Regions from separate parts of the Homo sapiens genome. Here region 1 is reported to be linked to region 2. The links are microRNA targets in miRTarBase. Many come from high-throughput screens and were not tested one by one. Region 2 holds a microRNA gene; the other region holds the end of a gene's coding sequence.
The links. Region 2 holds the annotated microRNA hsa-miR-7515 (AGAAGGGAAGAUGGUGAC, at 3,043-3,060, opposite strand). A microRNA usually pairs through its seed, bases 2 to 8, with sites in the 3' UTR of a target mRNA and lowers its output. Matches are read on the target gene's strand: a 7mer-m8 pairs with bases 2 to 8, a 7mer-A1 pairs with bases 2 to 7 and ends in A, and an 8mer does both.

Region 1: miRTarBase lists CTXN1 as a target of hsa-miR-7515. Seed matches in the 3' UTR shown: 7mer-m8 at 4,046-4,052 and 7mer-m8 at 3,997-4,003.

What each region holds. Positions count from the first base shown.
Region 1 is chr19:7,921,064-7,926,063 of GRCh38, forward strand. CTXN1 (cortexin 1) reads right to left here. Exons shown (of 2, transcript NM_206833.4): 1 at 4,904-5,000; 2 at 3,428-4,495. The coding sequence starts at 4,475. The coding sequence ends at 4,227. SNAPC2 (small nuclear RNA activating complex polypeptide 2) reads left to right here. Exons shown (of 5, transcript NM_003083.4): 2 at 360-479; 3 at 642-710; 4 at 972-1,284; 5 at 1,382-2,187. The coding sequence ends at 1,701. LOC124904629 (a long non-coding RNA gene) reads left to right here and starts at 4,342. Exons shown (of 2, transcript XR_007067120.1): 1 at 4,342-4,773. RefSeq lists an enhancer at 503-1,105 and silencers at 4,367-4,456, 4,987-5,000.
Region 2 is chr2:6,648,161-6,653,477 of GRCh38, reverse strand. It overlaps MIR7515 (microRNA 7515), which reads right to left and starts at 3,105; the gene lies at 3,039-3,105. It overlaps LINC03156 (long intergenic non-protein coding RNA 3156), which reads left to right and starts at 2,959. Exons shown (of 2, transcript NR_110497.1): 1 at 2,959-3,372; 2 at 4,097-4,371.

The DNA.
Region 1 (5,000 bases), not on the chromosome of region 2:
GCTGCCGAGTCCGGGCGAAAAGCAACGCATGCTGTTGGACAGGATACGAGCTTGAAGTGAGAGGGAATAGAGAAGAGGGGACGAAGAAGGGAGTTGAACGGGGTAGTAGTCAGCATAGGGTTGGGCCCTGGCTGCGTGAAGGAGCCGGAACTGGCCTGGGCCTTACAACTTCCTTAGGTAGCTGGTCACGCTCTGGGTGGGGTAGGGGCCTTGGCAGTCACTGGGACTCCTAACACCGGGCCAGCAGGAGACTAAGGCGCAGTAGCGGGGCCCAGAGCATACAAGGGATTGGGCTTTGGCTTCTCTGCTGCAGCCCTGAGCTCATAGAAGCCTCATTCCGCCGCCTCTTTCCTTTCTAGATCCGGGTCTTCCTCCAGCAGCTCAAGGGCCGCGTAGCCCGGGAGGCCATTCAGAAAGTGCATCCGGGTGGCCTTCAGGGACCAAGGCGCCGGGAGGCACAGCCCCCAGCCCCCATAGAGGTGAGGCAGATGAACAGGGTGAGGCTGTCCAGGGCAGGTCCCTGGTGGGTAGGTGGGAGTTGCGGGGGATAACCTGATTAGGGGATCCCCAGGAGGAGCAGGGCTTGGGGGGCCATTGCAGGCTGATCCCTGGGCTGACCCTGTACCTCTGGCTTCACTCAGGTCTGGACGGATCTGGCTGAGAAGATAACAGGGCCACTGGAAGAAGCCCTGGCAGTGGCTTTCTCGCAGGTACCGCCATTCCCCCAGGCAGGTCAGGGTGTCCCAGAGGACAGGGTCACATGGGCCAAATCATGTGAACCTGGGTCCTGGGCCCTTTTGCCAGCTCTGTGGACTCCGTCAGTCACTGGACACCTCGAGCCTCAGTGTCCCTGGCTCTGAGGCCATCTCTTGTCTGAGGAGCATCTTAGGGTGGCAGGGAGGATGGGGGAATGTGTAGACGGTGAGAAGACTTCCCAGCTCCTCTTCCTCCCTGATTGTTCTGCCTGCCAGGTGCTCACCATCGCGGCCACGGAACCGGTCACCCTCCTGCACTCCAAGCCCCCCAAGCCCACGCAGGCCCGTGGAAAGCCTTTGCTCCTGAGCGCCCCTGGAGGACAGGAAGACCCCGCCCCTGAAATACCTAGCTCTGCCCCTGCTGCACCTAGCTCCGCACCCAGGACTCCTGACCCTGCCCCTGAGAAACCTTCTGAGTCGTCGGCTGGTCCCTCCACTGAAGAAGACTTTGCTGTGGACTTTGAGAAGATCTACAAGTACTTGTCCTCTGTCTCCCGAAGTGGCCGCAGCCCCGAGCTCTCAGCAGCTGGTGAGAAGGGTGAGGGAGGGGGCAGGAGCAGAGGGATCAAGGGTCCCTGGCAGCAGGCAGGGGTGTCCCCTTACCCCTCTCCTCCATCCATCACTAGAGTCCGCTGTGGTCCTCGACCTGCTCATGTCACTTCCAGAGGAGCTGCCACTCCTGCCCTGCACAGCCCTGGTTGAGCATATGACGGAGACGTACCTACGCCTGACAGCCCCCCAGCCCATTCCCGCTGGAGGGAGCCTGGGGCCTGCAGCAGAAGGGGATGGGGCTGGCTCCAAGGCACCAGAGGAGACCCCCCCAGCCACCGAGAAGGCCGAGCACAGCGAACTGAAATCGCCTTGGCAAGCAGCTGGGATCTGTCCCCTGAACCCGTTCCTGGTGCCCCTGGAGCTTCTGGGTCGGGCAGCCACCCCTGCCAGGTGAGGGGCATGGCGGGCAGGAGGCCACACCAGGCCCCCCGCCCTGCCCCTCGGTTCTGCTCGGCTGGCCCTGGCTCTTTCTGAGGATCCCGTCATGGGGGAAGGTCCTTGAGATGATGCTCAGCTGTGGGGCGGGCCTCTAAGATGCCCCATACTTTGGGGGTCTCAGAAATGGAACCCCCGTTGTACAGGGGTTGGGTGGGGGTTGCAGGACTCCACTCACAAGCCTCCTGATGTCAAGGACAGGCGGACAGGGCTGGCCTCCCCCAGTCCCCAAGCCCCACTGTGCCTTGTTGTCTGCTGGGGGGCCATAGCTGGCACTGCCCACCGTAAAGGCCCTCGCACATTTTCCCCCTTCCTGTACACCTCGGGGCCAGCATCCTCACCTTCTTCAACTGACCAGTCGTGGTTACTCCCTGCTGCCAGGTCCTTCCCCTTCCCGGGGGTATTCTGTGACCATGAATAAAGTTATCATTCTCTTTCTCTTTCACCTGTGACTTAAAGATGGAAGTGGGGGCCCTGAAGTGTCAGAGCTTGGGGGTCACAGGGCTGGGGGTGTGTGCCAGGGAGGAGAGCTGCCACCTGACTGGTGTGATGAGGCCTGGGGTGAGGAGCCCCTTGGTGACTGTGAAGCTGACAAGTGTGGATGGGGAGAGCCGGCAGGGCACCTTGGGGACAGGCGTCAGGGATGGGTTTCAGAGTAGGGCAAAATCACATCGCACAGGTGGAGGGGAGAAGGCAGCAGAGAGTGGGGGTGACCCGGTGGAAGGAGTTGAGCCCCAGGCTGGGCGGTTAGAGGAAGATAGATAGGGGTGGGCTGCCCCGAGTGGCAGGAGGCTAGTGGGAGTGGAGTGTCCCCTGGGGTGGCTTTGGGACCTCAAGGATCCCTAGAAGGCGGGGAGGGAGGGGTACTGGAGTCAGGGCTGACCCCAAACCCCTGGGGGTGCTGGGACCCCGCTTGAGGCCCCCTCCATCAGCTTCACCTGCCCTGTGGGTGTGGACCGAGGGTCGGGTCCTAGAGAGGGAAGCAGATGTCCTCCCACGGCACCGCGTCCCACGCCCAGCTAGTAATCCAAGTCGGTAAATTCTCCGTTCTCGGAGCCTGTGCATTCACCCAGCCTGCCTTTTATAGAAACGCTCATTCCTCCCCCCACACACTGCACACGGCTCCCCTGGGGTGCACATCTCTTGGGAGGGCCTTGGAGCACAGCCAGCCCACTCCGTCCGTGGTCACCGCCCCACCGCACCAGACCCACAAACGCTGCCAATGGTGGTGGGCAGGGGGAGGAGGCTTAGGCTGCAGGTACGGTCGGTCGTCGGAGCCTCCCTCCAGGGCTGGCAGAGGGTGCGCCTCCCAGTTCCCCACAGGGCTGAGTCTCTCTCACCACCCCCGGCGCCTCCCCAGATCAACAGAATTGTGTGTGGAGGGGAGGCAGCTGGGGGTTACACATCAGCCCCCCCCCCCAAAGCCGGTGAAAGGTGCTTGTGATCTTGGTGTCTTTGCAGCCCTGGGAAGCTTTAAAAACATGCAAAAGCCAGACCTGGGTTCCACTTCCAGCCCTACCAGACTCTAGCCATGTGACTGTGGGCAAGTCAGTCACTGGAGCTGCCTGGCCCTCGGTCTCCTGGCCTGTAGAATAGGGATGCTAACAGGGCCTGGCTCATTCTCACGATCCCGAAGAGGAGACAGGCTATAAACAGGAGGTGCCAACTCAGCACGCTACTTGGCATGCAGTAAGCGCTCAATAATAGCTTTTATTATCATGTTCGGCTCAGAGGCAGGGAGGAGTGGAACGGCATGGGAGGGCTGCGGGAGGCACGGCAGGGGGGTCAGGGGCAAGTGGCAGGAGGGCGGATGGGGGGCAGCGGTGGGCACCGGGGCAGGGCGCGCTGACCTGTCCTGGGGCCCGGGTTGGGGGCAGAAATGAGCCTGCCCACGCTGTCCCGCCACGGCAGGCGCCACGCATCCTCGACACAGCCGCCATGGCAGGCCTTCGGGCTCCGTCTCCGGGACAGGCGGTGCAGGGCAAATTGGTATGCAGCGTCCGCCCCGTGGGCCCGGGAGAGCCTGCCCCGCAGGGACCAGAGCCCAAGGACGGGCTCAACACTCAGTCAAGGTGGGGTTGACGACGGCCAGACAACAGGGGAGGGAGGAGGGACAAGGGGGTCCCCACTTCCAGGGACGCACAATAGCAGAGCCACTTACACGCTGGGGAGGGGGCGGTGCGGGGGTCCTCCTCCCGCCCGGGATTCAGAGTCGGGGGTGGGGGCCAGCCGGGCGGGTGAGATGCGCAGAGAGGAAGGGACAGGGCGGATAAAGGCACGAGGTGGGGCTCCGGCCAGGCCAGGAAGGGACATGGGAGGGGTCTCGAGGGGGAGGGGCTGGGCTTCTCCCAACTCCCTCCCCCTCTCCCCCGGGCTGGGGGCTCCGGGGCGGGATCCTGAGCGCAGTCCTGGCCCCGCGGCGCCCCCCGCCGGGCCGGCCCTCTGAGACCCCGGCGCAGGGCCGGCTAGGGGGCGCCGCGCCCCTCACACCAACGCGTAGTCGAACTGCCCGCGCTCGAGCGCCTCCTTGTGGTCGGTCCAGGACGAGGCGGGCATGCGGCTGTAGGGGTCGAGCAGGATGCGCACGCAGCGCACCATCAACAGCACCAGCACCACGAGCAGGCAGAGCACGAAGGCGAACACCGTGCGCTGCTCCGCGTCCAGGCCCGCGCCCACCGGGGGCCCCGTCGACGGCGGCAGGGGCTCCGGCGACAGCGTCCACGTCGCGCTCATGGCTCACATCGCCGCGCGCCCTGCGGAGGAGGGGACCCGCCCCGGGCGCCGGGGATGAGGCTGCGCCCTCCCTCCCGCGCCTCCTCCGCTTCGCCCCCTCCTGCCGCCGCCGCCGCCGCCTCCCTTAACGTGCCCGACCCCATCCCCCGCCCGCGCCTCGGTCCCCGGGCTACGCCCATGCCCGGCCCGCCGGATCGCCGCCACCACCACGCGGGGACCCAACTCTGGCCGTGCGCGCAGGTGGGGGCGCTGAGAGCCGGGAAACGGAGCCGCGCCCGGCCTGGGCCGCACACAACAGGTGCGAAAGCGCGGCCGCGGCCCGGGCGCGCGGCGTGGGGACGGTCCCCGCGGCCCCTGCCCCCGCTCCCTTTGTTCTCGGCGGCCTGGGACCCCCTCCCCCACCGCCCCCGCCCCGGCGCGCCCCTCACCCTGGCTTCGACCCGGACGGGGACCGACCGCCCGGCGGCCGCGCTCTCTCAGGGACCCGCGCCGGCTGCGCGTTCGGCCTCTCCCCGGCGGCGGCGG
Region 2 (5,317 bases):
ACAAATTAAGGGTGTCTGTCACTGCCTACATGAGCCTGTACAGAGAGCATCTCCAATCTCATGAATTTTAGAGTATGTTCCACAGAAATGCAGAAACCAATTCAACGGCAAGGAGTTGACACACAGCTCATAATCCCTGTCTAGTCAGTATGAAAATCTGTCTGTGCAAGGAATGCAAAATGTAGTCACGCATGGAGTCATGGGATATCAGGAGTGTTATTTTACCAGATCAGAGGTAGTGCTTTACTGACATGAAGTACTTAAAGTGGAATTGCTTTTCTGGGTTGAAACATGTGTATGTGCTCAGCTAATTTCAATCAGCACTGTTTAGTTGTTGTGCTTTGCTTTTTGAAACTTTCTGAAACCAATTACCTTCTCAATTGCTTCCATGATATCTCTTTCAGAGAGTCATGGGTTCTGATTTTGGAGTCAGGAGTTGGGAGCGGCGTTGTAGCTTGTCCGTGAGCTCAGGACCCTGAATTACTCGACTTATATGCCCAGCGTGGGGGCCTCCTCCACTTGCTTGAGTACCTGGCTCCCGAGTCCTTCATCAGTTGACTGTCTAGGTTGGAAATGTTTCCATGATCTGAAAACATCCATTCAGTCTTATCTAATGTATCCTTTCTTCTTTGGGCTAAATGTTAACAGATCCTTCGTTCATTCTTCAAATACAGCTCAGTTCCCAGGGCTTTCTTCTGCACAAATGAGTCAAAAGCGCTGCTGCATCCAACAGTGAGAAAGCAGATGTGTCCCCCTCATTCAGAACACCCAAACTCTCTTACTGTGGCTTAAGGGGCTATAACCTTCTGACTCACCCTTCATACCATAAGCTCATGCAGACTGCAAAGCTAACTAATGCTAACCATCCTTCCTGGTTGTTTTTAAAGCAATTTCTATTAAACCTATTTAGTCCACCTTTAGGCAGTTGCCTTCTGAATTCAGGTTCATACCATTACATTTCCTCCTGCTGCAATGTTATTTTCAGCCTGTCTTTCAAGCCTGTCCAGATTTTTGTGAACGCTGTTACTGAGTTTGCATGCACAAGGTTCCTCTCACAGATGAATCATGCCCAAATTTGACAAGTGTACTTTCTACATCTTCCACTACAATTTCTAAGAAACGAATAGGCTTCTACTGACATTAGTGAGTGGCATAAGCCTGAATGAAATAGACTATGACTCTTGACTGGCTGAATATACAATAAAAGCATAAAACACAAAATGCTTTTCCAACATAGATGCTAGAAATGAGAGTAAAGCTAAAATTCCCCAGCCATACACCCCATGTGGGCTCCAGCACTCTACGTTTAGCTGCCCAGATATCAGCACACATGGCTGTGATGGAGCCAGGAGGTGGGTGCTTCAGTCTTGACTTCCCCACTTTCTATCTTGTGTCCCACCATCTAACTTGTTTTGGGCAAGTCAGTTTTTTTGAGCCTACCTTTCCTCCTCTATGGTGTGTGGGTAGTAACACCAGTCAGACTTAACCTGAAAGTTGTGTGAATGAAAAGCATAATCTGTATGTCAACCCTGAAGATATACGTATGTCAGAAATTACTATAAAGAGATCATCAGCTGGGCACGGTGGCTCACACCTGTAATCCTAGCACTTTGGGAGGCCGAGGCGGGCAGATCACCTGAGGTCAGGAGTTCGAGACCAGCCTGGCCAACAAGATGAAACCCTGTCTCTACTAAAAATACAAAAATTAGCTGGGCGTGGTGGCGGACACCTGTAATCCCAGCTACTCGGGAGGCTGAGGTAGGAGAATTGCTTGAACCCAGGAGGCGGAGGTTGTGGTGAGCCGAGATGGCAGCATTGCACTCCAGCCTGGGGAACAAGAGCAAGACTTCATCTGGAAAAAAAAAAAAAAAGAAAAAAAAAGAGATCATCATTAATTTCCTTTCATCTCATGATGTAGAAACATTTAGATGTTGGGATCCTTCCACATACTTATCTAAGAAAATCTCTGGCTTTTTTTTTTTTTTTTTTTTTTTTTGAGATGGAGTCTCGCTCTTGATGCCCAGGCTGGCGTGCAGTGGCACCATCTGGGCTCATTGCAACCTCTGCCTCCCGGGTTTGAGAAATTCTCCTGCCTCAGTCTCCTGAGTATCTGGGATTACAGGCACCCGCCACCACGCCTGGCTAATTTTTTAAATATTTTTAGTAGAGACAGGGTTTCACCATGTTGACCAAGCTAGCCTCAAACTCCTGACCTCAGGTGATCTACCCACCTTGGCTTCACAAAGTGCTGGGATTACAGGCATGGGCCACTTTTCTATTTGTTTATTTTTGTGTTGGTTTTTCTATTTTTGGTGTTTCTGGATCATGGACTTTGAAAAACTTCCTGGCTTAGCAAATTAGTGTCCTTGTTTCAGTAGCTTCTGCTTGAAGATTTCTGCTGTAGGCAATGAGCCAACTGGCCAGAAAATATCCAGTTATGCTCTGCAGGTTCATGGTGGATGGGGACTTTCACTGTTGTTTAGAGAAACCATTGAGTGGATAACGTTCCAAACAGCAAAATCAAATGGGGATTCTGTACACTCGGGAGTGTCGGCTCTGGACAAATTAGGTTGCACTTGATTGTAAGAAGCCAGGCTTTATTAAAATAGAATATAAATATTAACAGAAACGGACTGCTTCTAATCCCCACTACCGTTGGCCAGGGAGGCCTCTCTTCAGGTTTTCTGAATGGAACTAAATAAGGAGCCCATGTTACCGCGGAAAGGGCACTGTGATTAGGAGCCTTTCATGAGCTTCCATGAACGTCTAGGGCTTGGAAACTTCATTTTCAAAATAAGGCTGTTGGATTAGATGATTTTCCCAACCCCTAACCCTCTGTGTTAATGAATGGACTGACTCTATAATCATGTTCCTTGGACATTTCTATGGAAACACTGAGCCATCATAAGGGAGGCCTTCATTCTGATGTAACAAAGCCAGCTGTGTCCACATGAGAACATTGGCAAGAGTGGGGACATGGAAGCTGTGTTCAGGCCGGTCCACGCTGGGTGACCCATGTGACCTGCTGCTTAGCAATTCCTTGTCACCATCTTCCCTTCTCAGCCTCTTTTTTCATGCTAACAGGCATAAATGAAATGATAAAAGTTTGAGCTCTTCTCGTGGAATTCTCGTGATACAGATATGTGCTACATGTTCATCATCTCGTTGGTCTTCACCATGATAACTGTGGAGTAAGAATTATAAGCAGGTCACAGATTAGGGACTTGAGATTGACAGTTTGGCTTCCCTGTTCTGGGTGGCAAAGCCTGTGGAGTACTCACCTACCTGCTGCATGAAGGCAGCATGGAGGGACTGTGGTGGATTATCTGCAAAGATGGCCAAAATTCTCTCATCCCTGCAGGCACATACAAGGTAAGAACACCTTTACCAGTGGAATGTGATGAAAATGCTGCCCAGACAATTCTAGACAGGGCCTTAAGAGGTCTAGATGCTTCCACATTTGCTTTCTTGGGAGCTCTGAGTTATCATGTGAGAACCACCAGTCTCCCCAACCTGCACCCTAAGCTCATTATCCACAAGGCTGTGCAAAATAATAAATCACTGTTGTTAGGACGCAAAGTTTGGTAGTGGTTTGTTATGTAGTCGTGGATAACTGCAGCAGGGATCTCAGCAACTTTTCTTCTCTGAACTAATGTTTAAAGTCAGGATGTAACATATTGTCTCCATGTGACTTTGTTGAACTAAATAAAGAATGCTAATACCAGATGCGGACCCTGCCTCTTCTGTTCTCTAAGACTAGGCATTGCTCTCTGATCAGAAGAGTCAATCCTGGTGAGTTTAACTTGAGCCTCAGAATCCTACTCAACACAAAGTTCCAGAGAGAAGCGATTATCAATGCCAATACCTTAGAGATGGTACTGGCTGTGGAATCTGTCATCCCTTGACTAGGTGGTCTCTAAGTTCCTTTCCAATTTTAATGTTTTCTGTTCTGATTTATCTTTTGGCATTGTGCAGGTGTCAGGAGAAAAAAATAATGCCAATGTGTCTCTTTAATTCCTTTATCATTAAGTCATAACCTTTCCCAACTCCCAATCCAGTTTTCTTACGTCAATACTTTGGTTTTTGCTTTGTGAAGATGCCAGAATCAGTCAAAACTAAGCTCACTGTCCTTGCTAATATTCTGCCCCAGAGAAGAACTGAAGCTCAGCTCTTCACCCTACAGAAAGCCTGAATTTTGTAAATGTTCTGCTTAGAATGAGGAAGAAAGATGAAGAATGAGGAGGAAGAAGGAAGGAACGAGAGAGAGGTAAAGCCAACAAGCAGAACAGACCTACATTTGCAGCATCTCCAAGTTTCTGCAACAGCATTATGTTGTTGTTATGTTTTGTTTTAATAAAAGCACATACCATTTTTTTTGTTACTCTTATATTCTTTTCATAACAGCTCAGCTAAAGACAGATAATGCTGGAGTCAGCTTTTTCTAAGAATTAGTCTCTTCAAACTGGCCATAGAGATTTGGTAGAAGTCATGGGTTTTAATTGAATTTCTCCTAATGGTCTCCCAGGGATGGAAATATGACTGATACAGGCTTACTTTCCCTCTCCCCTCGGTGAAGCTGTATTGCCTCCCACAGAACAGACCGTTCTTTATGTTCTAACCGGGCTTTTCATAACTCCACTGGAGAGCTGTACAAACCCTAGACTTGGCAACGGCTTTTTTGTTTTCTGAAGCCAGACCAATTCTGGACCCAGTTCCTGCTTTCTAGGAAGAAATAGCACATGCAACCAGCCTCTTCACTGATGAAAAAATACCTCACTCCTTTTTAGACAGCTTCTCGTATTGATAATTTTATAGAAATGTACTGTATAAGTGAAAGTCAGCATTTCCATTACACAACAGCCTGCTAGAGCTGCTTCCAAGGGGCAGAGACTCCTGTCGGCTGTTTGTCCGAGGTGATCTTCCTCCCTTAATCTGTCAGTCTAGACCTTAACAATGTTCCTCAAATACCGGCTCAAGTCCTTCCTTCTCCCAATAACTTTTCTATGGTCTCTGGACCTCCTTAGTCTTCAGTGCCGCTCCTCCTAAGTTTCTGCACCACCTGCCTTCAACACCTAGTCTGTGCTGTAAGCATGAGTTTTCTTGTGGCTTCTTTTTCTCAAGGCAGGCTGGGCGTGGGGAGCTGTCTCTGCAGCATCTTTTGAATATAGATGCCATTTCTCACTTTTCTTTTCTCTGTACCCTCTATAGTCCATTGAAAATACTGGGCAATTGATAAATTCATGCTAAAAAGGACGATGATCAAGGTAGGGCCAAGCTGCATGGATGAGGGAAGAGTTGCCACCCACACTGGGCACCA